Homo sapiens: one gene and its partners. The protein of the gene in region 3 purifies or fractionates together with the protein of the main gene of each other region. This does not show direct contact. Each region holds a gene or a part of one and is shown on either strand. Other genes may lie near its edges.

What was found.
Region 1: the proteins of COL6A1 (region 3) and HMGCLL1 fractionate together in Homo sapiens (co-fractionation; one large-scale study listed by BioGRID). This does not show direct contact.
Region 2: the proteins of COL6A1 (region 3) and PRDX4 fractionate together in Homo sapiens (co-fractionation; one large-scale study listed by BioGRID). This does not show direct contact.
Region 4: the proteins of COL6A1 (region 3) and HHIPL1 purify together in Homo sapiens (co-immunoprecipitation; one large-scale study listed by IntAct). This does not show direct contact.
Region 5: the proteins of COL6A1 (region 3) and LYZ purify together in Homo sapiens (co-immunoprecipitation; one large-scale study listed by IntAct). This does not show direct contact.
Region 6: the proteins of COL6A1 (region 3) and TMEM87A purify together in Homo sapiens (co-immunoprecipitation; one large-scale study listed by IntAct). This does not show direct contact.
Region 7: the proteins of COL6A1 (region 3) and MMP3 purify together in Homo sapiens (co-immunoprecipitation; one large-scale study listed by IntAct). This does not show direct contact.

The regions. Positions count from the first base shown.
Region 1 is NC_000006.12:55,439,363-55,443,453, reverse strand, and holds part of HMGCLL1 (3-hydroxymethyl-3-methylglutaryl-CoA lyase, cytoplasmic), read left to right. Parts: intron 1-3,894; coding exon 3,895-4,020; intron 4,021-4,091. UniProt on the Homo sapiens protein: Non-mitochondrial 3-hydroxy-3-methylglutaryl-CoA lyase that catalyzes a cation-dependent cleavage of (S)-3-hydroxy-3-methylglutaryl-CoA into acetyl-CoA and acetoacetate, a key step in ketogenesis, the products of which support energy production in nonhepatic animal tissues.
Region 2 is NC_000023.11:23,680,742-23,684,832, forward strand, and holds part of PRDX4 (peroxiredoxin-4 precursor), read left to right. Parts: intron 1-1,654; coding exon 1,655-1,785; intron 1,786-2,929; coding exon 2,930-2,964; intron 2,965-4,091. UniProt on the Homo sapiens protein: Thiol-specific peroxidase that catalyzes the reduction of hydrogen peroxide and organic hydroperoxides to water and alcohols, respectively.
Region 3 is NC_000021.9:45,998,770-46,002,158, forward strand, and holds part of COL6A1 (collagen alpha-1(VI) chain precursor), read left to right. Parts: intron 1-127; coding exon 128-190; intron 191-383; coding exon 384-449; intron 450-887; coding exon 888-923; intron 924-1,561; coding exon 1,562-1,598; intron 1,599-1,989; coding exon 1,990-1,998; intron 1,999-2,483; coding exon 2,484-2,617; intron 2,618-3,191; coding exon 3,192-3,301; intron 3,302-3,389. UniProt on the Homo sapiens protein: Collagen VI acts as a cell-binding protein.
Region 4 is NC_000014.9:99,647,710-99,651,800, forward strand, and holds part of HHIPL1 (HHIP-like protein 1 isoform a precursor), read left to right. Parts: intron 1-4,091.
Region 5 is NC_000012.12:69,346,712-69,351,544, reverse strand, and holds the start of LYZ (lysozyme C precursor), read right to left. Parts: upstream 3,165-4,833; 5' UTR 3,137-3,164; coding exon 3,001-3,136; intron 1,438-3,000; coding exon 1,273-1,437; intron 1-1,272. UniProt on the Homo sapiens protein: Lysozymes have primarily a bacteriolytic function; those in tissues and body fluids are associated with the monocyte-macrophage system and enhance the activity of immunoagents.
Region 6 is NC_000015.10:42,235,197-42,239,287, reverse strand, and holds part of TMEM87A (transmembrane protein 87A isoform 1 precursor), read left to right. Parts: intron 1-1,672; coding exon 1,673-1,856; intron 1,857-2,868; coding exon 2,869-2,968; intron 2,969-4,091. UniProt on the Homo sapiens protein: Potential monoatomic ion channel gated by mechanical force, implicated in normal touch sensitivity through the generation of mechanically activated currents.
Region 7 is NC_000011.10:102,840,491-102,845,343, reverse strand, and holds the start of MMP3 (stromelysin-1 preproprotein), read left to right. Parts: upstream 1-1,734; 5' UTR 1,735-1,797; coding exon 1,798-1,902; intron 1,903-2,427; coding exon 2,428-2,672; intron 2,673-2,764; coding exon 2,765-2,913; intron 2,914-3,064; coding exon 3,065-3,190; intron 3,191-4,750; coding exon 4,751-4,853. UniProt on the Homo sapiens protein: Metalloproteinase with a rather broad substrate specificity that can degrade fibronectin, laminin, gelatins of type I, III, IV, and V; collagens III, IV, X, and IX, and cartilage proteoglycans.

The DNA of each region.
Region 1 (4,091 bases), on a different chromosome or scaffold from region 3:
CCCTTCTGGGACTCCTGTAGTTGCAGGGTCTTGATCCTCAGTAGCGAGAAAAGGAACATGATACGTGGATTCCAGATCCCAGAAGTGAATCATCCACATTTCGGGCTGAAGCCATTTCTCATCTATCCGGCTGATTCCTCTGACTTTTGCTACTTTATACTTTTTTGGGTATTTTTTCAAAACCTGCTTTTCTTGAAATGCTGACCAGTCCTGGTTAACTGTTTGCTGCCCCAGGGTACAAAGTTTCTCTAAAGTTAAAGCTGACCCATACCCCGGATTGATAAAGGGTGAGATAGATAAGAAACTCTACTTTAGGGATTTGAGAATCACTGGATAAGAGGAGATTCTAGGACAGAGATGATTCTGGTTTGATTAATTTAGGGAGAAGCTTAGACATTAGTCATTTGAAAAGGGCTCCAGGTGATTCCAATGGGTTGACAGGATTGAGAATAATGGAAATTTCTGACTCCTAAACTGATACATTCAGATCCACTGAATAGATCAGTTTTAACCTATAAGTAAAGAAATGCCCCTGCCTGTTTATATCATGGCAGACTCCCAGAGACGGGTCAACATCTTAATATTTGTCTTTTCCAAGTACTGAACAATGCCACAAATTTCACTTCTAAAGTATAATTCCCCATTCTTACTGCTTTGATTCATAGTAAATGAAAATTGTCCTAAAGGTACCAGTATTTTACTGCTGAATATGACTAAGCTTGTCAGATCATTATGTGAGAAATGTTGTGGTAATGGAAAGAAAGCAATAGAGACCTTCTCATGTTGGAGAGTATAAGAAGAAGAAATGGAGGTAGAGAAACAGTCTATCCTTTGTAAACTTTCCTTAGGTCCCAAAGAATTCTAAGGCTTTTTAAGGACTGTAGTTCTTCCTTTGTGAGATTTTGTAAGTATCCTTTTCAGTCTTGCAAAGGAAACTCTAGGCAAGTGGTTGAAAACCCACAGTCCCTTTGGCATGCCTAAAGGACACAGGAGCCAAGTGAGAGAGCTCCCAATGGCCAAATGTTGAACAGTTTGAGCAACAAAAGACATAAATTGGTATTACGTTATAACCCAAAGTGCAAAATAATTACCTATAATTAGCTATGAGTCCTCCCTAATATAAATACATGTTAGAATAAGTAAATAAATGAGAATGGACAAATTTTCCATACAGAAGAATTCAAAATTTTTGTGTAGATACTCCCCATTCTTTAAGTGTGAGCTACGCATAGTGACATTTTTCCAAAACGTACAATACAGAAAGACTGTGGGGAGACTTTATAGTGCAGATACCTGGCAGACACCACCTCAGCCAGACAAGAAAAGTTAATACCAGCCGTCATAATTTATATTGATATTATATATCCTTGATATAATGCTTTCAGGATGACACTTTACCTCTGTGGTCTTCTCCCAAAACTCTATAACTCCAGTCTTAACAGGAGAAAAACTTAGACAAACCCAAGTTGAAGGACAATGTACAAAATACATGACGAGCACTTTGGGAGGCTGAGGAGGGGGGATCACTTGAGGTTAGGAGTTTGAGGCCAGCCTGGCCAACATAGTGAAACCCTGTCTCTACTAAAAACACAAAAATTAGCCAGGTGTGATTGTGCGCACCTATAATCCCAGCTACTCAGGAGGCTGAGGCAAGAGAATCGCTTGAACCCAGGAAGCAGAGGTTGCAGTGGGCCGAGATAACACCACTGCACTCCAGCCTGGCTAACCGAGCAAGACTCCATCTCAAAAAAACAAAATAAAACAAAACAAAAACATGACTTATACTACTCAAAATAGTTCGGAGAAACTGTCACAGCCCATAGGAGGCTAAGGATACCTGACTACTAATGTGGTATACTGGTGAGCTCCCAGAACAGATAAAAGACACCAGTTTAAAAATGTCTTTAGAAATGTCATTTTAAAAGTCTAAAGAAATCTAAATATTGCATGGATTTTAATAAAAACTTGCCAACATGTGTTCTTTAGTTATGACAAATATACCATAATAAGATCTGACAAAGAAGCCAAACTTCAGTCAGATTTCTAAAACTTCTCCTAAGCCCACCTCTTCATTTCCTTGTAAAATCCAGTTTTAGCAATTCCTACTAAATTAGCTTAACAAGAACCCCTATAGTCAATATCCAAATGCCCGATCTGATTAGGTCTCTCCTCCTCTACCAACCCGAAGGTCATGTCTGATCACCCTATCCTGTCTTCTGCAAAAATCCTGGTAGGTCAGTTTAGCCAGAATTCCTTTCACTCCTGATGTTTTCTCCTAGTAATTTTTAATCCACTGACCCCCACCCCACTCCTTGGCTATAAATTCTCACTTGCCCATGCTGTATTTGGATTTCAGCACAGTCTCTCTCTCCTGCATTGCATGTGGTCCCTGTACCTACTGCAATGTTCCTAAATAAATTCATCCTTGCTGTGCTTTAATAAGTATCATTGAATAATGTTTTCTGTAACAGATGTTAACCATAGAGAAAACTGAGTGTGCAATATATAGGAATTCTGTTTTATCTTCACAAATTTTGTGAAAATCAAAAACTATTTTAAAATTAAAAGTTTATCAAAAAAGTAAAGAAGGGAAGGAAGGCAGGAAGGAAGGGAGAAAGAGATTCCCACATGAGCAGCAGCTGTCAGAATCTTGTCAAAATTTAAAATTCTCAAGTCGCAGCCCAGACCTTCTGAGTCAAAAACTCAGGGAATGTAGCAGTAACCTGTGATTGAGAAACATGATATAGTTGGTTGGAAAGAGCTCTGCTTCCAGGTGCTTCTCATTTTAAATGTGATCATGTTACTTTTTCTTTAATGCCCAAGAGTGAAGAATCGGATTAGGCTTTACTGTATCTTCTGATTACCGAATTGTTACCTTTCACAGAGGAATGGCATGCCTGCCTCTGTTCTTCTCATATTATTAACATTTGAACTCCGGGGCCCTTCTCAGACCCTGTTGTACTCATGTCTTCCATAACTTCTCCGGTACACAGAGAGCTCTTCCACCTCTGATATCCCCAAGTGCATAATCATGTACCAAATCTCATGTTTCCAGAGGCTATAAATCAAAGCAGAGTGTAGATTCCCTGGAGACAGAAGATTTCACCTACCAGATAGTGACCTTGGGTAAATTGTTTATTCCCTCTGTACCTGAGTTTTCTTTCTGAGAACTGGGGATGATACAAGAGTATCTACTTCATGGATTTTGGGGAGAATTGTGAATTAATACACATAATTTGTTAATAACAGCATCCAGCACTTAGTGAGGAACCAATAATGTAAGCTGGCGTTACTGCTGGTGGCAAGTGTTTTGTCTCTTAAATATTTCTTCCTTCTCCCAAAGTAGTGGAGTTTTGTGTGCAAAACAATGAATGTCTCAATAAAGATTTGGTGAGTTGAATGGGTAAAGTGAGCCCACAAAACCCTATTTCAAACCCAGTGACTTCTCTCTCCCCTGCCCTCACATACCAGTCATCTAAGGCATTTTGATGTTGAAGTAGAATGTTGAAAATATTTCATGTTGCTTATAAAATGCTTTTAGAATAAAGTTAGAGAATTGGATAATATGTGAAAATCTGGAGTAAATTAACCTTACTCTAAGCTTCACCACCTACAGTTGAGCTGTTACCAACGAACAACACCATTTTACTTTTGATCAAAGATTATTCTAGCTCCAGAGAGCCTTAGCAGAATTTCTGTTAGCCTCAAAGACGAGATTAGACATAAAAGAAATAAGCACCCTGGGGACCATTCTAGAGGCCACTGGGTAAGTGAATATATTTGAATAACCAGTTCAGATTTTGCTTATTTGCAGTTTACCATAGGTTAAATAGAAATGCAACAATTTACATGCCATAAACACACAAGCTTTAGGTGGTTTGGTTTGTTTTCCAGATGGGAATTAATGTGGTGGACTCCGCAGTATCCGGATTAGGTGGCTGCCCTTATGCAAAAGGTGCTTCTGGGAATGTAGCCACTGAGGATTTGATATATATGCTTAATGGCCTGGGGCTCAATACAGTAAGTTACTTTAACGTATTTTAATATTCATGCATTCCTTGCAGCTCCAAATTGCAAAGCTTCTAAGATGT
Region 2 (4,091 bases), on a different chromosome or scaffold from region 3:
ATAATTTTTTTTTGTTAAATTAGGCCATTGTGGTGGCACATTCCTGTAGTCCCAGCCTACTCAAGAGGCTGAGATAAGAGGATCGCTAGAGCCTGGAAGTTCAAGGTTGCAATGATCTATGATCACACCACTGCACTCTCGCCTGGGTAACAAGAGTGAGACCCTGTCTCTAAAAAAATAATTAAAATTAAAAATAAAGAATACATAGCCGGGCGCAGTGGCTCACGCCTGTAATCCCAGCACTTTGGGAGGCCAAGGCAGGCGGATCACGAGGTCAGGAGATCGAGACCATCCTGGCTAACACGGTGAAACCCCATCTCTACTAAAAAAAATAGAAAAAATTAGCCGGGCGTGGTGGCGGGTGCCTGTAGTCCCAGCTACTCGGGAAGCTGAGGCAGGAGAATGGCGTGAACCCTGGGGGGCGGAGTCTGCAGTGAGCCGAGATCGCGCCACTGCACTTCAGCCTGGGCGACAGCGAGACTCCGTCTCAAAAAAAAATAAATAAATAAAGAATACATTTCAGTGGTTTTTGTGTATTCACAGAGTTGTGCAACCATCACCACAATTTTAGAATGTTTTCATGCTCCAAAAAACCCCATACCCATTAGCAGTCACTCCATGTTTCCCCTAACCCACTTCCCCTGGCTTTAGGCAACCACAAATCTACTTTATGTCTCTATAGTTGCCTATTCTGGACATTTCATATAAATGGAATCCTACAATATGTGCTTTTATGACTAGCCTCTTTCACGCAGCATAATGTTCTCAAGGTTCATTGTATTGTATCATGTATTGCTACCAGTAGTTTCCCCTCTTTTGTACTTGCTAAGTATTTAATGTTTTCTGCTTTCATAAAATCTGTTACTAAGTTAATTTCCAAGAATAAATATGCCCCAAAAACGACTGAGGCAGTTTTAAAATGTGGAATCATTTGAACATTAACCAAGTAAAATTATCTAACGTTAGCTATATTATTTGACCTGAGCCAGTAGTTTCTTTTTAAAATTTTTTTGTTAAGGCCGGGCATGGTGGCTCACGCCTGTAATCCCAGCACTTTGGGAGGCCGAGGCAGGTAGATTGCTCAAGTCCAGCAGTTTGAGACTAGCCTGGGCAACATGGCGAAACCCTGTTTGTACAAAAAATACAAAAATTAGCTGGGCGTGGTGGCACACACCTGTAGTCCCAGCTACTCAGTAGGCTGTGGCGAGAGGATCACTTGAGCCCAAGAGGTTGAGGCTGCAGTGAGCCGAGATCATGCCACTGCACTTCAGCCTGGGCAACAGAGTGAGATCCTGTTTGAAAACAAATAAAAAATTTATTATTTATTTTCAAAATAATACATGTACATATGCACATAGTTTTTAAAGGTCAGATTATCTTCAACAACTGTAAATACTCTGGTACATTTCTTAGCCAAAAACAAATTTTTAAAGCTGCAGTTTTACAGTGATAATTCCAAATTATACATTAGATTGAGGGAGGGATGTCCACAGGTGTGTGTACGTGTGTGTGTGTGTGTGTGTGTATACCATTGGAGTAGGTAGGTAGTGTGGTGTTTGTTCTGTATAGCATCCTTTTGTGTGGATGGTATAGGAATTCACAATACATAAATGAGAAGAAATGACCTCATCTCTACCATTCTTCTGTTTTACAGAGGTCTCTTCATTATTGATGACAAAGGAATCCTAAGACAAATTACTCTGAATGATCTTCCTGTGGGTAGATCAGTGGATGAGACACTACGTTTGGTTCAAGCATTCCAGTACACTGACAAACACGGAGAAGGTACCTCTCCCTTCTAACCTTTTGATTTTTTAGTTTGAAAGATAGCATAATTAGTTAGGTTTCTTATCGTAAAAGTAATCGATATTTCCAAAGTTTTCTGATTATTTACAAATTATTAGCAGATCCTTTTAACAGACCAAATTATAATTTACAGTGCTTTAACAAAATATCAGGCCAGGCATGGTGGCTCATGCCTGAAATCCCAGCATTTTGGGAGGCCAAGGTAGGAGGATTGCTTGAGCTCAGGAATTCAAGACCAGCCTGGGCAACCCAGTGAAACCTCACCTCTACTAAAAATCAAAAAAAAAAAAAAAAAAAAAAAAAAAAATATATATATATATATATATATATAAACTAATATATTCTGCTTACTAAATGAGATGCAAAAATATTCACTATTTGCATAGTCCTTTTTGATAAACTCAAAGACAAAAGTTTCTGCTACTGCAATTTTTAAAATTATGTTTCTGCAAGCTTAGAATGTGTCAATCTGGCAACATTTAGTGATGTAGTTTTCATTTGCCTCTTTGCATTATTGAATTTAGCCTTTTAAATAATCCTTGATCACTTCTCTGCCTTTCAGCTAAGATGAAGTATAGTAATGTAATCTCTGGGCTTATTCAGTATCACATTTGTAATCTACAAGTTCATCATTTTGCTAAAATAGAACACATTATATATTCCTTTTAAAAATGTCACTGAGTCAGGATGCATTCTAATGTCTCTTTTGACAAACAGTGAATCATGTCATCAGTACAAAGTACTGAAGTATACATGGCAAACAAGCGTACTGGAAGTTTATGTAAATTTGGAGGAATTTTTGCCATGCCCAGGCCTTTCAGCTCACCAGATTCCCAAACTTTCCAACTGTATTAGAGGGGCAATCAATTTGATTTCTTATATTTTAAATGTAACTAAACATAATTGGTAAAAATGAAAATAGATTAGCTGCCTGCTTATGAGCTCCATGACTAAAATTCCTTGGTGTCAACAGGCAGCTAATAGAAGTCATGTGCTCGGTGGTCTGGAAATGTTCTTATTAGTATATTCTATTCAGTTTCATATAGAAACAGAAAAAGTCAGTTGCTGAAGGTAACTGAATTCTGTTTTTAAAATGTCTTCTGCCTCTTTTTGTTTCTTTTAGTCTGCCCTGCTGGCTGGAAACCTGGTAGTGAAACAGTAAGTATATATATATGTTTTTATGTTGAGTTGATGGTTAGAGTTGAAAAAAATGCTGGCCGGGCGCAGTGGCTCACGCCTGTAATCCCAGCACTTTGGGAGGCTGAGGCGGGCAGATCACGAGGTCAGGAGATGGAGACCATCCTGGCTAACATGGTGAAATCCGTCTCTACTAAAATACAAAAAAAAAAAATTAGCCGGGCATGGTGGTGGGTGCCTGTAGTCCCAGCTACTCGGGAGGCTGAGGCAGGAGAATGGCATGAACCCGGGAGGTGGAGGTTGCAGTGAGCCGAGATCATGCCACTGCACTCCATGCTGGGCGACAGAGCAAGACTCCTTCTCAAAAAAAAAAAAAAAAAAATGCTAACCTTAGAATAATCTTCCCTTGTTACTAGAACTGTCTTGATTTTGTAAATGAAGTAAACATTGCTAAGCAGAAATCAGAGTACAGACATTCTTTGGCCTGTAGGAAGAGTAGCTGAAACCGGAGAAAGCAGAATATGGGGCGTGATGCTGTGAATTTTAAAGCCAGGTATACAGATAAATACACCGTTCGAAAAAAAAAAGTAGGGCAGAGTGGAGACTTGGTAGAATAATTCAGAGGTCTTATAGGTCATGTATCGAATTTCTTCCTGTATTGGGACAAAGAAAACAGTCACAAGCAAAACCTTTCTATGCATAGTAAGAGGTTTTGAGAAAATCTAGCTCAATTAATACTGAAGATAATGATTCTCTCCTTGTCATGAAGAAAGAAAAGATTGAAACACGTATATTCTTTCATTTAGGAGGCTGTATAATTTTTTTTTCTTTTTTGAGACGGAGTCTTGCTCTGTCGCCCAGACTGGAGTGCAGTGGCATGATCTGGGCTCACTGCAACCTCCGCCTCCAGGGTTCATGCAATTCTCATGCCTCAGCCCCCTAAGTAGCTGGGACTACAAGCCTGCACCACCACACCCAGCTAATTTTTGTATTTTTTGGTAGAGACAGGGTTTCACCATGTTGGCCAGGCTGGTCTCAAACTCCTGACCTCAAGCGATCCACCCACCTCAGCCTCCCAAAGTGCTGGGATTACAGGCATGAGGCACCGCTCCTGGCCCAACCAACCTATTTATGAAAGCATTTATTAC
Region 3 (3,389 bases):
AATGTGTGTGGTGGGGGAAGGGAAGAGAAGAGTGCCTCTCTTATCTTTATTTTTTTCCTTTTAAAATTTCCACTTCCTAAAAACAAAATAAAACCCTTGTTAACCAAGTGCTCTCCCGTCACTGCAGGGCACGAAGGGCTACCCCGGCCTCAAGGGGGACGAGGGAGAAGCCGGGGACCCCGGAGACGATGTAAGTGTGGATGGGAGGCAGGGCCAGCCCCAAGTCCACCTGAGCCAGAGGGCTGGGCCCTTGAAGGGCAGTGGACCAGGACCCGCTTGGGGAGGCCTCATGGGCCCCGGCTGCTGGATGCTCTGTGGACGGGGCCAGCGCGCAGATGCCCGGGTGGTGCACGGTCTGTTGACACAACGCTGTTCCCTTCTAGAACAACGACATTGCACCCCGAGGAGTCAAAGGAGCAAAGGGGTACCGGGGTCCCGAGGGCCCCCAGGTGGGTGGATGTGGCTGGGTGAGGCCACGGTGGGCTGTGCCTGGGACGCCGGATGCTGGGGCTGGGGAATGCTGGAAGAGGCTGGGAGAGTGGGAGGCGGCGGGAGGGAATTTTGGGGAGCACGTCATCTGGGAGGCCCTGGGGGTGGGAGGTGCCGGTCACCAGGGCCAGGTGGTGGCCAGGGCAGCAGAGCCGAGCCCAGGGACACAGCGGGTCCTCAGGGTGGGGCCCACCTGGGATGGCCGCCTGGACCACCAGTGTGCGAAGCCCCAGCTGCCCTCACAGCACCGTCACTGGAGGACGAGGGGCTGGGTAGGGAGGGACCGGGCAGGGGTGGGCTTGATGAGGGGCAGGGCCCTGGGGGTGGGGGCTGTCTCAGCTCAGGAAGCACAGTGGGCTCCTCACCCTCAGAGCTCCTCTACTCCGTTTCTCGGACAGGGACCCCCAGGACACCAAGGACCGCCTGGGCCGGACGTAAGTGGGGCTCTGTGAACATTGCTGGGGGCGACCACTGTAGCTTCCATCCCTTGGGGTGTGGGTCCTGTCCATGGGTGCTCCTGTAGACGCTGCTCACGGGGGGGTGGGTTGTGGACAAAGAGCTGGTGCCAGGCCCTAGGGACCCGTGACGGCCATGGGAGGACCCGTGAGGATCATAGGGGGATGTGTGAGGACCATAGAGGGGACATGTGAGGATCATGGGGGACATGTGAGGATCATGGGGGGGACGTGTGAGGATCATGGGAGGACGTGAGGATCATGGAGGGGGACATGTGAGGATCATGGGGGACCCGTGAGGATCATGGGGGACCCGTGTGAGGATCATGGGGGGGGACGTGTGAGGATCATGGGGGGACCTGTACCCATGAGGACCATGAGGGGACCCGTGACGGCCACGGGGAGACCCATGACTGCGCTGTTTCTATGACCACGTCAGGGGTCCAGCCCAGTAGCAGGGGTGTAGTGGGCAGAGCCGGGCACACCTGCAAAGAACCTCCTGCCCAAACCCCGCCCTGTGGGGGCCCCAGGGAGGGTGACCTGGAGATCCAGCAGCCCACAGTCCCCGCTGGGAGGGGCTGTCTATGGCCCCAGTACCCTCGTCTCTCCCTCCCCAGGAATGCGAGATTTTGGACATCATCATGAAAATGTGCTGTGAGTATCTCTGAGAAGCCGTCCTCGTTAGGGAGAGCAGGGCCGCCAGCCTGGCCTGTTCCACTCCTAGAAGGGTGTCTCCACTGTTGGGGGCCTGGGTCTCTGGGTACATCCTTGAGGAGGCTCCTCAGCCAGCCCCTACCGGCCTCCAAAGCCCTCCCAGGCCCCCGGGTCCCCGCACAGGCTGAGAGTCCCCGGTGCGGTGCAGAGCTGCCACGTGGGGAGGGCGGCCGGGGAGGCGGGGAGGCGGGGCAGGAGGCCGGGGAAGGGGGGAGGCCGGGGAAGGAGGGCGGCCGGGGAGGCGGGGAGGCTGCCCCAAGAGTAAAAGCCTTTCTGACGTGCGCAGGACGCGGCCCTGACTGGTCTAACTGACTCTTTCTCTTCTCCTCAGCTTGCTGTGGTGAGACCCAGGCTCTAGCTCCTGAGAGAATGGATCCCGGGGGTCGGGGAGCGAGGCCTGGGTCCCACACATGTCACAGGACAGCACATGGCACTCTGGTCCCCGCCCGCAGCTCCCTGCACCTGCCCGCCCCCTCTGGGGCCTGCTCCAAGCCAGCAGGGTTCCCGGGTGTTGGGCTGGGCCCCGCCCTCTTTCACCCATAACTGAAATAACCAGGAGCAGGCTTGGGGGGGTCCCTGCTCCATCATTCTGGCCCACAGGCCCCACCCTAGCCTGGCTGAGCAACGCCAGCCCTGACCAGCCGCCGGACAGAGCAGCCTTTACGGGGCCATGGGAGGGGGTGGGCTTTTCTGGGGCTGAGACGGGGGGACCCCAACGTGTCAGGTGAGGATGTGGCAGCCAAGGAGGGGCCAGGGCGGTGGAGGGGAGGGGCCAGGGCACTGGAGGGGAGGGGCGTGCTCTGCTGACACCGCCCCCGCCTGCAGAATGCAAGTGCGGCCCCATCGACCTCCTGTTCGTGCTGGACAGCTCAGAGAGCATTGGCCTGCAGAACTTCGAGATTGCCAAGGACTTCGTCGTCAAGGTCATCGACCGGCTGAGCCGGGACGAGCTGGTCAAGGTGAGGCCTCGCCCCGCCCGGCTTTCTCAAGCCCAGGTGCACCCCGACCCTGCCGGCCGCCCCTGCCCGCGCCAGACCTCAGCCTCCCGAGGCCACCGCTGCATCCCTGTGACTTCCCTACTCATGACAAGGATGCCAGGCACGCGCCAGCCCGTCCAGGCCTCCAGCTCCACCTGGCGAGGCTGGCCCATTGTACACAGGCGCCCCAGATGAGGGAGGGTCTCCCCCTCTCCTTGAAGGGCGGTAGTCTGGGGTCCTGAGTGCTGGGTGTGGGCTTGTCCCTCGTGGACAGAACCCAGGAGGGCTTCATCCACCAAGGAAGATTGCTTTGCAGGGTACCCAGGTCCCGGGGGCTGTGCCACCCTCTGGGCACCCGGAGCCAATCGCAGGGTACCCAGGTCCCGGGGGCTGTGCCACCCTCTGTGCACCCAGAGCCAATCGCAGGGGACCCAGGTCCTGAGGTCCTGGGGGCCATGCCACCCTCTGGGCACCCGCAGCCAATAGAGTCACCCTTGGGAAGCTTATGCGGACCTGGGGCAGCACTCGCGTCCTGACCCCGGTGCCGGTCCCACAGTTCGAGCCAGGGCAGTCGTACGCGGGTGTGGTGCAGTACAGCCACAGCCAGATGCAGGAGCACGTGAGCCTGCGCAGCCCCAGCATCCGGAACGTGCAGGAGCTCAAGGAGTGAGTGCCCCACGCGGCCAGGACCCTCCCACCCCTCGCCCCGACCGCTGTTCCCACGGCAGGTCGGCCCTGACCCCTGATCCCAGGT
Region 4 (4,091 bases), on a different chromosome or scaffold from region 3:
GTCTGCATTTGGCACCTCCTGATTTCCACACGGGGAGGTGGTGGAGGTGCCTTATTCATAGGTCTCTGTCAGTGTGGAGGCACTCAGGCCTTCACACCTGCTTTGGGGGGATGGGAGACTCTTTCCTGAGGCTTTGCTTGTCCAGTAAGTGCCTGTGTCCTCTGGAGGAGAGAGGACAGCCATGGCACGTGGCATCCCCAGTGCATCTGGTGTGAGCTTCCACATCGCTAACCTCCCCTGTGACTGGGGTTGCCTCTCTAAGCCACTAAAATCATCAAAGCATGGTTTCTGATGGAGATCTCCATGAAATGTATTCTATGGGCTCATGTATTCAGCAGGCTCTTCCTGAGCCTGTTAGGAGGCAGCCCTGTGCTGGATGCTGGGCCCAAAAACAGTTGGCAAGTCACAGGCCCAGTCTCAAAAATCCCCTTCATCACTTCAGGAGACTGACACACACAGGAAGGTGCCAGAAATTCCTCAAGGAGTGTAGGAACAAGGCCACATACCTCAGGGAAGGCTTCCTGAATGTTGGTTGCATGTTGATAGCTCATTATTTACTGAACAAACACATACATCTTCTCCATTTGTTCCTCCCAACAACTCTATGAGGTTGGAATTCCTTTCCCCTTCCACAGATGAGGACATAGGCACAGAGAGGTTAAGGAGCTTGCCCACGGTTAAGAGCAGTAAGAGGTTAAGGAGCATTCCCCATGGGGAATGTGTGCGCTGGCTCCAAAGCCATTCTCCTAACCGCTTTGCCACACTGCCTCCCTCCTTGAAGCCCCACTGTGTCCCACAGTCCGTGGAGTGGACAGACATGCAAAGAGATAATGAAGTCCTAGCCAAGCTGACTGGCTGGAGCGCCCCTGGCGACGGAGCAGTGACTGCTGTAGAGAACTCACCCTGTAAGCTACAAGATTCAATGGAGTGAGTGTCGTGTCTGAGATATGGACAGAGTGCATTGGGAGCATCCATAAGGGCCAGGGATGGGACAGTCAGAGCCCTGGGAGCATGGAGGACAAGAGGAGACCTTTGAGTAGGCCTTGAGTCATGAATAGCAGTTTGCCAGATGAGGAAGTAGGTGAGAAGCAAATATCCGATGGACAGGACACTGTGCAAAGGCTTGCTCTTTCAAAAAATGAACGGTGGACATAAGAAACCTTCAGGACCCAGGGCCATGAGTCACGAGTGTCAGTGACATGGGGGTGGCAAACTCTGGGCAAGATGGGGGCCCTCCGCCCTGCACTGAATGGCCCGGGCGGCTGAAGCCTGCGATACTGGGCTGGTTTCCTATGGCCTTCCTGCCACCTGCCCCTAAACACACTGAGGCCAAGCTGCGGATCATCCTCTTGCCAGCAGCAATCACTATGTCTTCTTGTCACTTCCTAGCTCTGGACTACCCTGGTCTGGGCACCACATTTACGTCGTGTGTAAGTAAGAGTACATAGGCCACGAGGAAGCATCTGCTGTGTGATTGGGACGCACGGATGCCGAGGTCTTCGGCCTGGCTCCCTGAGGGAACTTTTGCTCCCTCTGTAGTTCTGGATTGGGCTTTGGTGAACGGAGGGCTCTCGTTGCCTTCCAGATGTCTGTTCTGCCCCTCACTGCGTCTCTGGAACCAAGATGGTGCCTGGTACAATCTCTGCTCAGTAAATTCTTGGTGAATGAAATGTTGCTGACTAATCTGGAAAGAACACCAGTCCAGGCATCATGAGGCTTGGGTGTGAGCCCTGGTTTGGCTACTTCTTGGCACGTGGCCTTCTTTAAGTCTCAGTTCCTCATCTATAAAATAGGAGTCAAGCCGTGTACGGTGGCTCATGCCTATAATCCCAGAACTTTGGCGGGCCAAGGCGGGAGGATTGCTTGAGCCCAGGAGTTCAAGACAAGCCTGGGAAGCATAGAGAGACCCTGTCTCTGCAAAAAATAAAAATGAAAATTAGCCGGGTGTGGTAGAGCACGTCTGTGGTTCCAGCTACTCTGGAGGCTGAGGTGGGGAGGATCGTTAGAGCCCAGGAGGTCAAGGCTACAGTGAGCTAGGATTGTGCCACTGCACTCTAGCCTGGATGACAGAGAGAGTCCCTGTCTCAAAAAATAAACAAATAAAATAAAATAGTGACAATGACCCTACCTTGCAGAGATGAAAGAAGGCACGTGTGCACACAGCCCCTCCCTGGTCCACGTGCAGCTGCCGGCTGACCCACAGGTGGTTCCCAGTGAACCATGGGAGGGACAGCACACACGGCGGCCTGAGGCCTGGCCATCTGGCCTGCTCACTGGCAGAGGGGAGCATGTAAGACATGGCACCCTGGTCTGTACCTGGGACAGTAACTGACCAGGACCCCAAGACATTCTGCCAAGTGGCCCTTGGCCAGTCAGGTGAGACCTAGCCTCACAGCAGTAGAGGGGCCAGGAGGACATGCTGTGGTATGACCAAAAGCCACAATCATGTCACAGGAGTGAGTGGGCCCTGGCCTGGGGCTTGAGAACACCCCGGGAGGCAGCCTGCCATCCCCCATCCCCAATCCTCCCCCAAACGTCCCAGAGGCCTCTTGCTGGAACCCAGCCTGGTCCTCCCTGTGAGGGGAGGGAGTGTGTGGCTGTCAGTACCTCCCCACTGCAGAAGGAGCATCCCCCGAAGCTCTGGGGGCCCAGAGCTGACTCAGACCCAGGCTTGGCCTGGTGGACTCACAGGTGGGGGAGGGTGTCAGTCACAGATAGAAAGAATGACCACGCCACAGGCCGGCGGCTCTAACAGGGAGGCCCGCAGACAGCCTGGAGCTGTAGGGGTAGGGTGCAGGGAGGGTGCTGTGGTGTGGGGACACTTAACTGGCGTTGGGGATGGGTAGTTGGGAGCTGGCCAGTAGAGCTGAGCAGACGTGGCTCAAACCCCAGCCCACTGGCATGTGACATGATACTTTGGGCTCCCTTCTGCTGTCTCTGCTTCCACCTCTGTGCAGTGGTAATAAGAACAGGCCTCCCTCCCATGGTTGCCTTGAGGAGGAAATGCAGATTCATGGGCACACTGCCCTGGTGCCTGGTCCACAATTTGCCCCAAACCCCAGGAGCTGCTGTGATTGGTTAGCATGGCTTCCCCCACGGCCATGGCCATGATTTAAGAATAAAGAGAATTCTGCCTGCCAGAGAAGAGCAGGGAAAGGGCATGCCTGCAAAGGGAACAGCCTGTGCTGAGGCTCAGAGGTGTGAAATGGCAGGGAGTATGTATTAGTCTCTTCTCTCATCGCTATAAAGAAATACCTGGCTGGGTGCAGTTGCTCACGCCTGTAATCTCAGCACTATGGGAGGCTGAAGCGGGAAGATGGCTTGAGCTCAGGAGTTCGAGAGCATCCTGGGCAACATGGCAAAACCCCATCTCTACAAAAAATACAAAAATTAGCTAGGCGTGGTGGCTCTCGCCTGTAGTCCCAGCTACTCAGGAGGCTGAGGCAGGAGCATCTCTTGAGCCCAGGAGGCAGACATTGCAGTGAGCTGAGATGGTGCCACTGTATTCCAGCCTTGGTGACAGAGAGAAAGAGAGACCCTGTCTCAAAAAAACTAACGGACAAACACAAAACAAAACAAAACAAAACTGGGTAATTTATAAAGAAAAGAGGTTTAATGGGCTCACAGTTCTGCAGGATGTATAGGAAGGATAGTGGCCTCTGTTTCTGGGGCGTTCTCAGGAAACTTACAATCATGGTGGAAAGTAAAGGGGAGGCGGCATGTCTCATGACGACAGCAGCAGCAAGAGAGAGATGGTGTGGGGGCACACTTTAAAACAACCAAATCTAATGAGAACTCACTCGCTCTACAGTACCAAGGGGAGATGGTACTAAACTAAACCATGCGTGAGAACTCCGCCCCGTGATCCAGTCACCTCCCACCAGGCTCCTCCTCCAACACTGGGGGTTACAATTCTACACGAGATTTGGGTAGGGACACAGATCCAAGCCATATCAGAGTATCAGGAGATGGAAGGTAGACAGGAGGCTGGAGAGGTGGGGAGAGGCAGGAGCTGATGATGGAGCTGTCCATGGGCAGAGCCAAGTTAGAGAGCACTTCGTGTTTTACTGTTTTTCAACAGATAGAGGCCG
Region 5 (4,833 bases), on a different chromosome or scaffold from region 3:
ATAATTTAACATTCATACACATGATTGATATACATTCTGGAAGAATATATACCAGAATTTACCCATGGTTATAAACCTCTGGGTAGTAAGATTATGGGTGTTATTTTTCTTATTTGTATTTTCTAATTTTTATTTAATGACCAAATATTATTATATAATATAAATTTTTTTAATTAACTGGATTTTAGAAATAAGATTAATGTTCTTTATTGGGAATTTTAATATTTAACAATTTAATAATATCAACTTTGCAAGATTTCTGCAATATTTTTGACACTGAGGATTCCACATGGTATTTCTATTTTTATGAGTTCAGTAAAATATTTGTTTCACTCCAAATAAATAAATCCTTAAGTTAATTTGTTATTTACAATAATAATTCTACAGGAACTGTATTTTTTGAAGATGTAAACTAAAGAATTTAGAAATGGAATATCATCATGTTCCTAATTCACTTAAAAGTCTCTCAGCAGTAGCCAGGTACAGTGGCTAACGCCTGTAATTCCAGCACTTAAGGAGGCTGAGGTGGGAAGATTGCTTGAACTCAGGAGTTCAAGACCAGCCTGGGCAACACAGAATTTGCCTGTACTAAAAATTTCAAAAATTTGCCAGGCATGGTGGTGCACACCTGTAGTCCCAGCTACTTGGGAGGCTGTGGTGGGATGATCACTTGAGGCTGCAGTGAGCTGTGATGGTGCCACTGCACTACAGCCTGGGGACAGGGAGACCCTGTCTCAAAATAAAACAAAACAAAACCAAACAAAAAACTCTCAGCAAAAAAAAAAAAAAAAAAAAAAAAAAAAAAAAGGCATAGAAGAAGCAACTATGGCAAAATGTTAACAACTTTTAAAGTGCATAATGGGCATATGGCTGTTTATTATACTAATGTCTCTAATTTTCTATACATTTAGAACATTTCATAAAAAAAAAAGTAAAACAATTGAAAAAGGACCATACAACTAAATTATCCCAAAACCTCCCCAAAGTAAGCAGGAGCAATGGCATTGTTCTGGACAAAGCATCAGTAAGGCCATTGACAGTAAATTAATAGGTCATTCCAGAAACTTCTGTATATTAAAAAACATCAACCTTTTATGATACCACTTCTTTAATTTCTTACTCAGGGAATTATGAGGAAAATAATAATGACTTTCTGGAAGTTGAGATGTAGTTTTTCTAGGTCCCTCATGAACCTTTCAAGGCTTTTTCATTTGTATTGAGTCTCAATTCTTGTAAGTATAACCAGATTGGTCAAATATTAGCTTGTCTTACCACTGCAGGATAAATGACAGGCATTAACTGCTCCTGGGGTTTTGCCATCATTACACCAGTAGCGGCTATTGATCTGAAATATCCCATAATCAGTGCTTCTGTCTCCAGCATTGTAGTTTGTAGCTCGTGTGTTGTAACCACTCTCCCATTTGGCCAAACACATCCCTGAAAAGAACTTATTTTTAGTAATAAACAGCAACACTAAGTGACTTATACTCTATAGCAAAATCAGTTCTACTTAGCTACTTCTATTTTACTGATTTGTTTTATAAGTATAAAGATTTACTTATAAAATATCTTAGCACTTTAGTGTTAAGATAAGGGACTTGTAAGAGAATCCTTTTGTAATGCAAATCATCTTGTAACACCAACGAACAATATAACATACTTTTAAAATATTAAAATACATGTTTGTTCCATTGCTTTTACCCTTCCCGTGCTCCCATCCCTCAGGCAACATTCAGCCAAGAACAGAAAAATCAACAGAGCTGTTGAGTAGATTTTGTAAATTCATAGCAGATACATAGGCTGATGGAAAAATGCTTTTTTTAATCAGAAAAACATAAGGATTTTCTGATAGAAATTTTCTTATAATATCTAAAGGTGAATTTGGATATCAAGTTAGAATCTTGAAAACAAGACTATTCCGTGATTTCATCCCTTCACTCATTCATTCAAAAATAGCTATTGAGGGGAAATGTCTGAATTCAATCTGAAAACTACAGAGATTATTACATCGACAACTATGTACTAAACTATAAAATAACTTTTCCTCATGGCACATCTTGAATTGTGTGGGAGAAAATGAAAGATAGTTAATCAAGTAGAGTAGATAAAAATAATAAAACATTTCATGCTGAGTTTCTGGGATCCTATACAAAGAGTGACTGAAGGGAACTAGGTTCCTACTGCTCTTGTGTAGGGAATTCAATATATTCTTTAAAAACATCACTGTTAAAAATCCCATGTCGGCTGGGTGCAGTGGTTCACACCTGTAATCCTACCACTTTGGGAGGCTGAGGTGGGCAGATCATTTGAGGCCAGGAGTTCAAGACCAGCTTGGCCAACATGGTGAAACCCCATCTGTACTGAAAATACAAAAAATTAGCTGGGTGTGGTGGTACACACCTGTAGTCACAGCTACTCAGAAGGCTGAAGCACGAGAATCACTTGAGCCCAGAAGGCAGAGGTTGCAGTGAGCTGAGATCATGCCACTGCACTCCAGCCTGGGCCACACAGTGAGACTGTCTTTAAAAATAAAATAAAATAAAATAAAAATAAAAATAAAAATCCCACATCACGGCAGGGGACTTGAAGACAAGAAAAATACTGCATCACTCTAGGCTCTCAGAGCCCAAGTTCAAAATGGGAAATAACTGGAGTCACATACCAAGGACTTGAGAGAGCTCTGCCAGGTCCTCAAATGTATCTTTCAGTCAGCTTACATGTGCCATTGAATCTCAGGCACCCAGCAAACTTCCTAGCACTAGAACAGTACAACAGGTCCTGTTTTACTTAGAATGGAATTTTCCCCTGCCATGCCCGTATTCCTTTATCGGGTATCTCTGGTTATAAAGAACCAAACTGATGTTTTTAGCCATTGTAAGTATACAAACCCACAAAGAAATAAAACATCTATTCACTCAAAGCCCCTTCTTCTTCTTCCTTCTCTCCTAGTGTCTGTTCCATACGTAGCTAATTCTCTGGAATTATGGAGAGTAGACTTACAGTTTGCTAGGCTGATTCCCCTGTAGCCATCCATTCCCAATCTTTTCAGAGTTCTGGCCAACTCACACCTTTCAAAGACCTTGCCCTGGACCGTAACAGAAAGGAGGACAAGCCCCAGAACAATGAGAGCCTTCATGTTGACTGCTAGGTCAGAGTGCTAGGCTGACCAGGGTGAGCTGGCCCCAGTATTTAACATCTTTTAACTTCCTTCTTCCCCTTGTGGTTTGGGGGCTCCACCCTTTCAGTTGTGTGGAAAACAGGAACTGTCTATTGATCCACTGACTCTAAAGAGATTTTTTTAATGCTTGAAGAGAGATATGCTGATGTCCTAAGAATTAGTCTACAGGAAAATAATGAAATGGAATTGTTTAAAGTACTGGCTCTGGAAGAATTGGGGCATAGCACTACTTCCAAGACAGGAACTTTCTTCTGTTTGATTATGAATTTGAGCAATTATAAAGAAAAAAATGACTATTTTGTGCAGCTTAAAATGAGCTGTGATTTTTGAGTAACATTCAATTTTGTGAAATTGTTTTGTATGCATTCACTTTTTTATATTTATCTTTTTTACTTAAAATTATTTTACATATCTTTTCCACAAAATGGACATGACACATGTGCCTGTTGTCTTAATGGGTGTATAGTGTGACACCACGTTGCTCAGCTAGTTTCTTACTCTAGACTCTTTTTGTTACTATAGCAAATTTTTTATTATTATAAATCAGTGTTTTACTATTATAAATAAGGTTCATGTGAACAACTTTACCAACTACCTTTTTTTTTTTTTTTTTGAGATGGAGTCTTACTCTGTCACCAGGCTGGAGTGCAGTGGCGCAATCTCAGTTCATTGCAACCTCTGCCTCCCGGGTTCAAGCAATTCTCCTGCCTCAGCCTCCCAGGTAGCTGGGACTACAGGCATGTACCACCATGCCCAGCTAATTTTTGTATTTTTAGTAGAGACAGGGTTTCACCATGTGGCCAGGATGGTCTGGATCTCTTGACCTCGTGATCCGCCCGCCTCGGCCTTCCAAAGTGCTGGGATTACAGGTGTGAGCCACCACATCCGGCCTACTTTACCAACTACTTTTCACAATACTTTGCCTCCCCTTTCCATATTAGAACATAAGGGGTCATTAGAAAGCAACAGCATTTTAAAAATAAAACCTACCCAAACATATATCCAACTAAATGCTACCTTTGAAAATAGCAATCTCAGGAGGCTGTGCACAGCTTTTAAAACAATGCTACCAGAACTCAAAAAGAACTGCACTTCTGTATCTGCCTAAGAGGACAGATTCTGAGCCACACAAAGTGTCATCACTTTGTAGTTACCCTTATTTTTCATCAGTGGCCTCTAAAGATTACCAGATTTGGTTTTAAATGACAGTTCAAGGACCCTGTTCAAAAATCAAGAATAATCTCATTTTTCAGGCTAGGCCTAATTTTGATTCTTCAATAATAAATAGGGCCAGGTGCAGTGGCTCATGCCTGTAATCCCAGCACTTTGGGAGGCTGAGGTGGGTGGATCACCTGAGGTCAGGCGTTCAAGACCAGCCTGGCCAACATGGTGAAACTCCGTCTCTACTAAAAATACAAAATTAGCTGGGCGTGGTGGTGCGCCTATAATTCCAGCTACTTGGGAGGCTGAGGCAGGAGAATTACTTGAACCCGGGAGGCGGAGGTTGTGGTGAACTGAGATCACACCACTGCACTCCAGCCTGGGCAACAGAGTGAGACTCTGTCTCAAAAAAAAAAAAAAAAAAAAGAAAGAAAAAAAAAATGGCCAGCTGCGGTGGCTCATGCCTGTAATCCCAGCACTTTGAAAGCCCAAGG
Region 6 (4,091 bases), on a different chromosome or scaffold from region 3:
GGGCAGATCACTTGAGGTCAGGAGTTTGAGACCAGCCTGGCCAACATGGTGAAACCCCATCTCTACTAAAAATACAAAAATTAGCTGGGCGTGGTGGTAGGCGCCTGTAGTCCCAGCTACTCGGGAGGCTAAAGCAGAATTGCTTGAACCCAGGAGACAGAGGCTTCTGTGAGCTGAGATCTTGCCACTGCACTCCAGCCTGGGCGACAGAGTGAAACTGTCTCAACAACAAAAAATTAACAAAATGATGAAGCTCCCTTCTCTTCATTTTGTGTGTGTATGTGTGTATGTGTGCACATACATGTATGTGTGCATACGTCTGTGTCTCAGAATATCCTTAATATATTTTCAATTTTCTTTGTTCATGATTATTCTCTTCTTCCTTTCCCTTTAATAGTTTTCCCGTTTTGTTGTGTTTCCTTGCCTCTAGATGTATCCTAATCATCATGCCATTTTTCTTCTTCAGTGTTGTCTTCATCTATATAATTTTAGATCGTGAGCTGAAATAGCTCCTTCTTTAAAAAAAAAAAAAAAAAAAGAGAGTCTCACTCTGTCTCCCAGGCTGGAGTGCAGTGGCATGATAATGGATAATGGCTCACTGCAGCCTTAAACTCCAGGCTGAAGCTACCCTCCACCTCAGCCTCCCAAGCAGCTAGGACAACAGGCGTGTGCCACTATGCCTGGCTAATTTTTATTTTATTTTATTATTTTTTATCTTGAAACGTAGTCTCACTCTGTCACCCAGACTGGAGTGGAATGGCACGATCTTGGCTCAATGCAACCTCCAGCTCCTGGGTTCAAGCGATTCTCCTGCCTCAGCCTCCTGAGTAGCTGGGACTACAGGTGCGCACCACCATGCCTGGCTAATTTTTGTATTTTTAGTAGAGACGGGGTTTCACCATGTTTTGGCCAGGCTGGTCTTGAACTCCTGACCTCAAGTAATCTGCCCATCTCTGCCTCCCAAATTGCTGGTATTACAGGCATGAGCCACCATGCCTGGCCTAATTTTTATTTTTTGTAGGGACAGAGTCTTGCTATGTTGCCTAGACTGGCCTTGAACTCATGACCTCAAGCAGTCCTCCTGCCTCGGCTTCCCAAAGCACTATTGCAGGTGTGAATTACCACGCCTGACCAGAAAAAGCTCTTTTACTATAGGAGAGCAGGCTGAGTGCTCTCTATATATACCATATATGTGTCTGTGTGTATAATAGAGAGCACCTTTTATATGGTATACATATGTGATACATACATACACACACACACACACACACACACACACACATATATATATATACATATGAGAGCATTCGCTCTTGAGGACAAGTTCATATGTAGTCTTCTCTGCTCAAGACAAGATAATGCTTTCATATTAGTTAATGTTAAGCTCCAAAGGAAGAATTATTTCTTAACTAGAAGGTAGAATATATTTTTGTAACTTGTTAAGACTGTATATTGATTCAGGACAGGCGCTGTGGCTTATGCCTGTAATCCCAACACTTTGGGAGGCAGAGATGGGAGGATTGCTTGAGTCCAGAAGTTCAAGACCATCCTAGGCAACATAGCAAATCCCCATCTCTTAAAAAAAAAAAAAAAGTATATATTGATTCTAAATCTACAGACTTGGCTCTTGGCCCTAATTCTCCTTTTTATCTTTTACCCAATTTGATAACAGTTTTTCATGGTGATGTGTATTGTATATGTCCTGTTTGGTGTTCTGTGGCTGGCATGGTCTGCCTGCTACTGGAGAGATCTCCTGAGAATTCAGTTTTGGATTGGTGCTGTCATCTTCCTGGGAATGCTTGAGAAAGCTGTCTTCTATGCGGAATTTCAGAATATCCGATACAAAGGAGAATCTGGTAAGTAACCAGAAAATCTTTGCCAGTTCGAGTGGTTGGAAGGTGAGATGTATGAAAATATTCCTAAGGTCAGCAGTCACTACATAGGCTTAACTTTTCAATTACTTAATTATTACAATATCTTAAGCAGAATCACTATGACTCTGACTTTTGTTTTTAATCTTATGAGTTCAGTGATGTAAGACTAATTTTACTGAAATATGCTCACAAAAGTCACAACAGTAGTGACCATTTTGGGAATGATTATTAACATCAAATCTCAATTTCTGTTGATTTCTAAGGCACCATTATACATCTAAGAAAAAAAGTAAAGCTGTCAATTTAATTGTAAAATGTCACTGATTGTAAGACACACCTTGATTTAAAAAACCTCAAAATGTGGTGGGAAAGTGCATCTAACTGATAAAATATAGTCATATCAAGAAAATAGGAGAGTGCTTATGGTTTAGTAAGGTGAACTGGTAATGACAGAAGTTGTTTTATACTGTAGTTTTTTGTGATTGCTTCAGTTTTTTCTTGTCAGACCATTTAATTTAGTCATAATTATTATTGTGAGATAAACTGATAAGATTTTCCCTGGTCTTTGAAAGGTCTTGAAAATAGTAGATCTGAAAAAAGTTAAGCTGTACATGCCAACAAGCGTGTACACGAGTGTGTTTTGTGCTTTTCTATGTGTAGCTGTATTTCACAGTTTTTAAAAATGGGGGAAATTGTCTCGATGCTACAAACTGTCCATATAGGGTGAGGTATTCTGTTAAAGTTTTAGTGAATTTGGGGCCAGGTCGGGGAGGGAGCTGAGTTGAGCGCACCCAGATTGCCATACATAGACATGAGTAAGATTGTGAGTGGCATCAGCTTGTATCCTGTAAAAACTGTGGAAGAGGTATTCTATTTTAGCAGGACTAATATCAATGCTTATTCTGAAGAGTGTAGAAAGCAGCAGTCTAGTATTGGCATCTGGCCTGTTGCCAAACCTAGATTATGGTGCCATTTCTTCCCTTCTTTTTCATAGTCCAGGGTGCTTTGATCCTTGCAGAGCTGCTTTCAGCAGTGAAACGCTCACTGGCTCGAACCCTGGTCATCATAGTCAGTCTGGGATATGGCATCGTCAAGTAAGTATTAACTTCCTGTATGGAAGAGCAAATTAAAATGCTGATTAAATTAAAACAGTATTGCATGTTCCCAATGTAGTAGTTCTGAAATAGTTGATAAAAGAAATAATTCTGAAACAAGAAAGGTATTTGAAATTTTGTAGCATTGTAAATGTTGGGAAAATGTGTTTCATTTTCCATACTTCCAAATATATTCCATACTTCCAAATATATTCCATACTTCCAAGTCCAAATGTATTCCATACTTCCAAATCCAAATGTATTCCATACTTCCGAATATATTTCCATACTTCCAAAATATTTTTTGCAAATTAGATTTTTTATGGGAAACGCATTCTTGCTGTAACTGTCTGAAAATATTTTTCTATCCAAAAAATTTTATTTTTATTGAGGAGTGTCTTCTATAGGCATTCTTTGAGGCATTGTTCTAGGCCCTGGGGATATGGCAAGTAAACAGAAGATTTTGAGCTTACATTTGTGGAGGGAGGGGACAAAGACAAAATTTAAGTGGGTAAAATATTTTAATATGTCAGTGGAAAGTGCAGTGGAGCAGGTAATGCAGGAGCTAGAGCTTGCAGTTGTACATAGGGTGATCAAGGAGGGCTTCACTTAATGACATTTAAGCAGAGACTTCAAGGAGGTGAGGGAGCTATATGTATACCCAAGGGAAGAGATGCTGAATTGAGATCAGATTCTATATATATTTTGAAGGTGGAACCAGTGGAATTTGCTGATGGATCAGATGTATGATAGGAAAGAGAAGAGGAATTAAGGATGATGCCAATTGTTTTGATCTGATAAAATGGCAGGATGGAATTGAAGATTTACTGAGTTCAGGAAGACCTTAGGTGAAATAAGTGTGGAGCAGGGGCAAGATTGGAGTTGAATTAGATAACTAAGTAGGGGAAACAAAGGGGAGAGGTTGGGGCAGAGATAAAAGTTTGGGAGTCATGAAGATAAAGATATTATTTAAAGTCATGAAGGCCAGGCGTGGTGGCTTACGCCATAATCCTCACACTTTGGGAGGCCAAGGCGGGCAGATTGCCTGAGGTCAGGAGTTCAAGACCAGCCTGGACAACACAGTGAAACCCTGTGTCTGCTAAAATACAAAAAATTAGCCGGC
Region 7 (4,853 bases), on a different chromosome or scaffold from region 3:
TTATCTGTTGGGCTCCACTGTTTCTTCCTGGAATTCACATCACTGCCACCACTCTGTTCTCCTTGTCCTCATATCAATGTGGCCAAATATTTTCCCTGTATTTCAATCAGGACAAGACATGGTTTTTCCCCCCATCAAAGGAATGGAGAACCATAGAATACTAGTTTTAAAATGTCTTTAGGCCAGGTGCCGTGACCCATGTCTGTAATCCTAGCACTTTGAGAGGTTGAGGCAGGAGAATCACTTGAGCCCAGAGCTCGAAACCAGCCTGGGCAACATAGTGAAACCTCTGTCTCTATTTTTTAAATAAAATTTGAAAAAGTCTTTAGACATAATCTAGTCTAAAAATGAAGGCTTAAATGTGATGTATAGCCCCCTGCCAAGTGGCTATCAACTGTGTGGGCATCTTCAGTCATAGGGATCTTATTGCCACAGAGAAATCCCTTTAAACTTATTGGGTAAAATCTCTCCAATGTTTATTAAGAAACACACAAAAAATAAAGCAAAGAAGAAAATGCAAAAGAGTTATAAATGAGAGGAAGCAAAATGGGCACTTATTAAAGGTCTAATAAATGCACATTTGTATCCATCATTCTACTGAGTTCTTACTCCCAAGATGTTCTTCCCTTTAGCAAACAAATAAGCAAGTCAGCAAAGAAAGAAAGAACAAACAAAATGTGGTGATCAGGGAAGCATTGAGGAGATGGATGGTGGCAGGTGGCAAGAGGACTATAAAAGTTTTACAAAATGTCTTCCTCTGAATATGTTTAGAGTCTTGCATTCAAGCATTTATTATACACCAATAATGTGAGCAACACTTTACTTGACAAAGAAACAGAAAAGAAAGGAAAGGAAGAAAACAGAAGAGCATGAAGAGAAAATTTAGGATGGATTCTGTTCTTCAACTTCAAAGCATCTGCTAATTTGAATTTAGGGAGGAGGGGAAAAGGTTGAAAGAGAATAAGACATGTGTAGAAGACAAGGACAGAGAGAATTTCAGTCCGGTAAGCAATGTAATTCATTTCAATTCTACAACTATTTATGGAGCAGCTACGTGGGCCCATCACCCATTAATAAATTGGTTACAGAATTAAAACCAACCCAAAGGGAATATACTTCCTTCTTTTTCACAGACCCTCTTTGTTCTATTCTGCCCATGAGGTTTTCCTCCTCAAGAACCAGCAAATCCAACGACAGTCAATAGCAGGCATTACAAATCAGATTCAGAAAAATAAATCACCCCTTCTAAATTTCTTCTAGATATTATCTTTTATGTTTTGAGTATAATTGTATATAGTATAGACTATAGCTATGTATGTACACTTTCCACTTACATCTTTTATTTGCTTTTATAATGTGTTTCTTAAAATAAAACTGCTTTTAGAAGTTCTGCACAATTCTGATTTTTACCAAGTCAACCTACTTCTTCTCTCAAAAGGACAAACATAAATTGTCTAGTGAATTCCAGTCAATTTTTCCAGAAGAAAAAAAATGCTCCAGTTTTCTCCTCTACCAAGACAGGAAGCACTTCCTGGAGATTAATCACTGTGTTGCCTTGCAAAATTGGGAAGGTTGAGAGAAATTAGTAAAGTAGGTTGTATCATCCTACTTTGAATTTGGAATGTTTGGAAATGGTCCTGCTGCCATTTGGATGAAAGCAAGGATGAGTCAAGCTGCGGGTGATCCAAACAAACACTGTCACTCTTTAAAAGCTGCGCTCCCGAGGTTGGACCTACAAGGAGGCAGGCAAGACAGCAAGGCATAGAGACAACATAGAGCTAAGTAAAGCCAGTGGAAATGAAGAGTCTTCCAATCCTACTGTTGCTGTGCGTGGCAGTTTGCTCAGCCTATCCATTGGATGGAGCTGCAAGGGGTGAGGACACCAGCATGAACCTTGTTCAGGTAATTAACACTAACTGACCTGGCCAGGTGGGGAGCTTCCAGAGTAAGCTGAAACCATTCTGTGTGTCTTAAAACCCACATAGAATGCTTGAGCTTACTGTGTAGGAACAGTTCAAGAATAGAGAGTTATAGAGTGTTGGAAGTGGAAAAGGTCTCATTATCACACCATTTGGGCTTCTCCTCTTATGTAGGAAGAAACAAAGGCCAGAAATATTAGGTGTTTTCTTAAGATCACACAACACCATAGCAGTAGCAGCACTGGGGCTTAAGGCACATGAGTAACAAGTGGAGAGTGGATGAACCATATCTTGCTTTGGAACAGCTTCAGTTTTTTTTTTAATGCAACGTAATTTTAGCTAAATATTTGTGTTGCTAGTATCATATTATAAAATTTGCCATTATTTCAGCAAGCTAGAGAAATACTCCAAATAGATTAAGAAGTGAGCAACTGCAAAAACTTACTATAAATAGATAGCTATAGTAAAAATTGTAAGAGTGACCTAAAAACTATACTTATTCTGTTAGAAATATCTAGAAAACTACTACGACCTCAAAAAAGATGTGAAACAGTTTGTTAGGAGAAAGGACAGTGGTCCTGTTGTTAAAAAAATCCGAGAAATGCAGAAGTTCCTTGGATTGGAGGTGACGGGGAAGCTGGACTCCGACACTCTGGAGGTGATGCGCAAGCCCAGGTGTGGAGTTCCTGATGTTGGTCACTTCAGAACCTTTCCTGGCATCCCGAAGTGGAGGAAAACCCACCTTACATACAGGTAATGGTTCAGAGGGGTTTTCACATAAGATTGGAATTTTATAAACTATATCATAGGAGAAAATAGCATCTGCTTCAATTTTTCTCCTACAGGATTGTGAATTATACACCAGATTTGCCAAAAGATGCTGTTGATTCTGCTGTTGAGAAAGCTCTGAAAGTCTGGGAAGAGGTGACTCCACTCACATTCTCCAGGCTGTATGAAGGAGAGGCTGATATAATGATCTCTTTTGCAGTTAGAGGTAAAAAAAAAAAAAAAAAAAAAAAAGCAAAACAAAACAAAACAAAAAACACATGAAATGTATCCATTCATCTATCTGGTGTTGTTGTACTGGAAAAGGCTCAAAAGGGATCCTTGTTACATATCTTTCCAATAAATTTTTTTCCTACTAGAACATGGAGACTTTTACCCTTTTGATGGACCTGGAAATGTTTTGGCCCATGCCTATGCCCCTGGGCCAGGGATTAATGGAGATGCCCACTTTGATGATGATGAACAATGGACAAAGGATACAACAGGTTAGTTACACATCTCTCAGAATGATTTTGGCATTAATTTTTTTATATGTAGAAATCTGTTAATAACCAAGAATGCTCAAGAAATGAGATGTTCTGGATTTTCCAGTGGATCAGAGATCAGCAGAATATATTTTTGTTTTAATTATTATTGAAAATATTTTCAGATGCTTTAACAGTTTTCCTATATTGGTAAGCACAATATAGGAAATATCATTAAGTATTTCTTTAATGACTGGATCTTTGTGATCTAGGGGTAACCATTATTAAGAAAAATTTCTCATATCAAAATACAAACATTCAAGGGATAGTATATTGCACTGAATCTACATTAAAATGTGCTCTGGATGTTACTTATGTAATTTCCTCCATTTACTTCTTTACTCTTCAAACCAGAAATAAGAATTAAATTTCAGAAACTGAGATTCTCTTTTTTTTTTTTTTCTGGCTGAGGCATTATTTTAGTACTTTTAGGTTAAAAGAATTTTTATGGGCTTGTTCTGAAGGAAAAGACTAACTCCCAAATACAACGTTCAAACTGTTTAGGTAGAAGAATGTTTCTCAGTTCATAACTGTATGTTTTGGGGAATGACATCCAAAGTTTTCAAAAAAATCAGCTAAAACAATTAACACTACTTCTAAAAAAATAGGAAAACAATTAATACTATGTCTGAGGTTTAACTGGGATTTATAATGAAAATGTAAACCTCTGTAGGACGTACAAATGTGAGTTTAGTCCTGGATAGAATTCTTGATTGGTTGAGTTAACGAATTCTTGTAAAGAAACCTTCCTGCAAACTCTCAAATGAGATTGTTCCTAGCATCACAAGTTACACAAGTAATACTAGCAAAAGTAAGGTAGATTTACTTACTATATTGATCATAATTACCCAATGCCTCCCAATTTTAGCATTATGGGTGTTTTTAAAAATATGAAGGAAAAAATTTTGAATAAAGCCAGTGTTTATGTATTCTAAATCTGTTGTGTGACAAATGCTAGACATGATTGGGCATACTGTGTTTTAAACCAATTTTGCAAATCCTATGACATCTATCATTATTCATGTTTTTAGTCTCAATATGTACTTCATGATGATGAGGCTGAGACATTATCAATTAACATGAATATAGTTTCCTTTAACTGAGACTGCAAATGGCAAATGTAAATATATTAAAACAGTGTTTAGCTTTGCATTGACAAATGAAGGTAAATATCTGATATGCTAAGCAAGTGGGTTCATTCCATTCCTGAGTACAAGAAAAGGGATCTGGTTCTTCTGGAGTTAATATGCTTGTGAGGCTGGGGGTGGGTTTGGGGCCATGGGGGGCAAGTGGATGTAACTGGGAAATCAATCTCAAAGATTGATTACAGGTATGAGTTTTAAAATACACTTAGCTTTCCATTAAGTGTGTAATTAGTCAATTGTTCAATTAACCAACAAACAAGGTGTAAAAAGCCCTGTGTGGTTCCAAGAAGTAAAAACCAATACAATGCACAGCAGACCTGTGTAATGCACATGTATTTAAAAAATAAGTAACTATTGTTCTCAATTTCTTAAATAGGGACCAATTTATTTCTCGTTGCTGCTCATGAAATTGGCCACTCCCTGGGTCTCTTTCACTCAGCCAACACTGAAGCTTTGATGTACCCACTCTATCACTCACT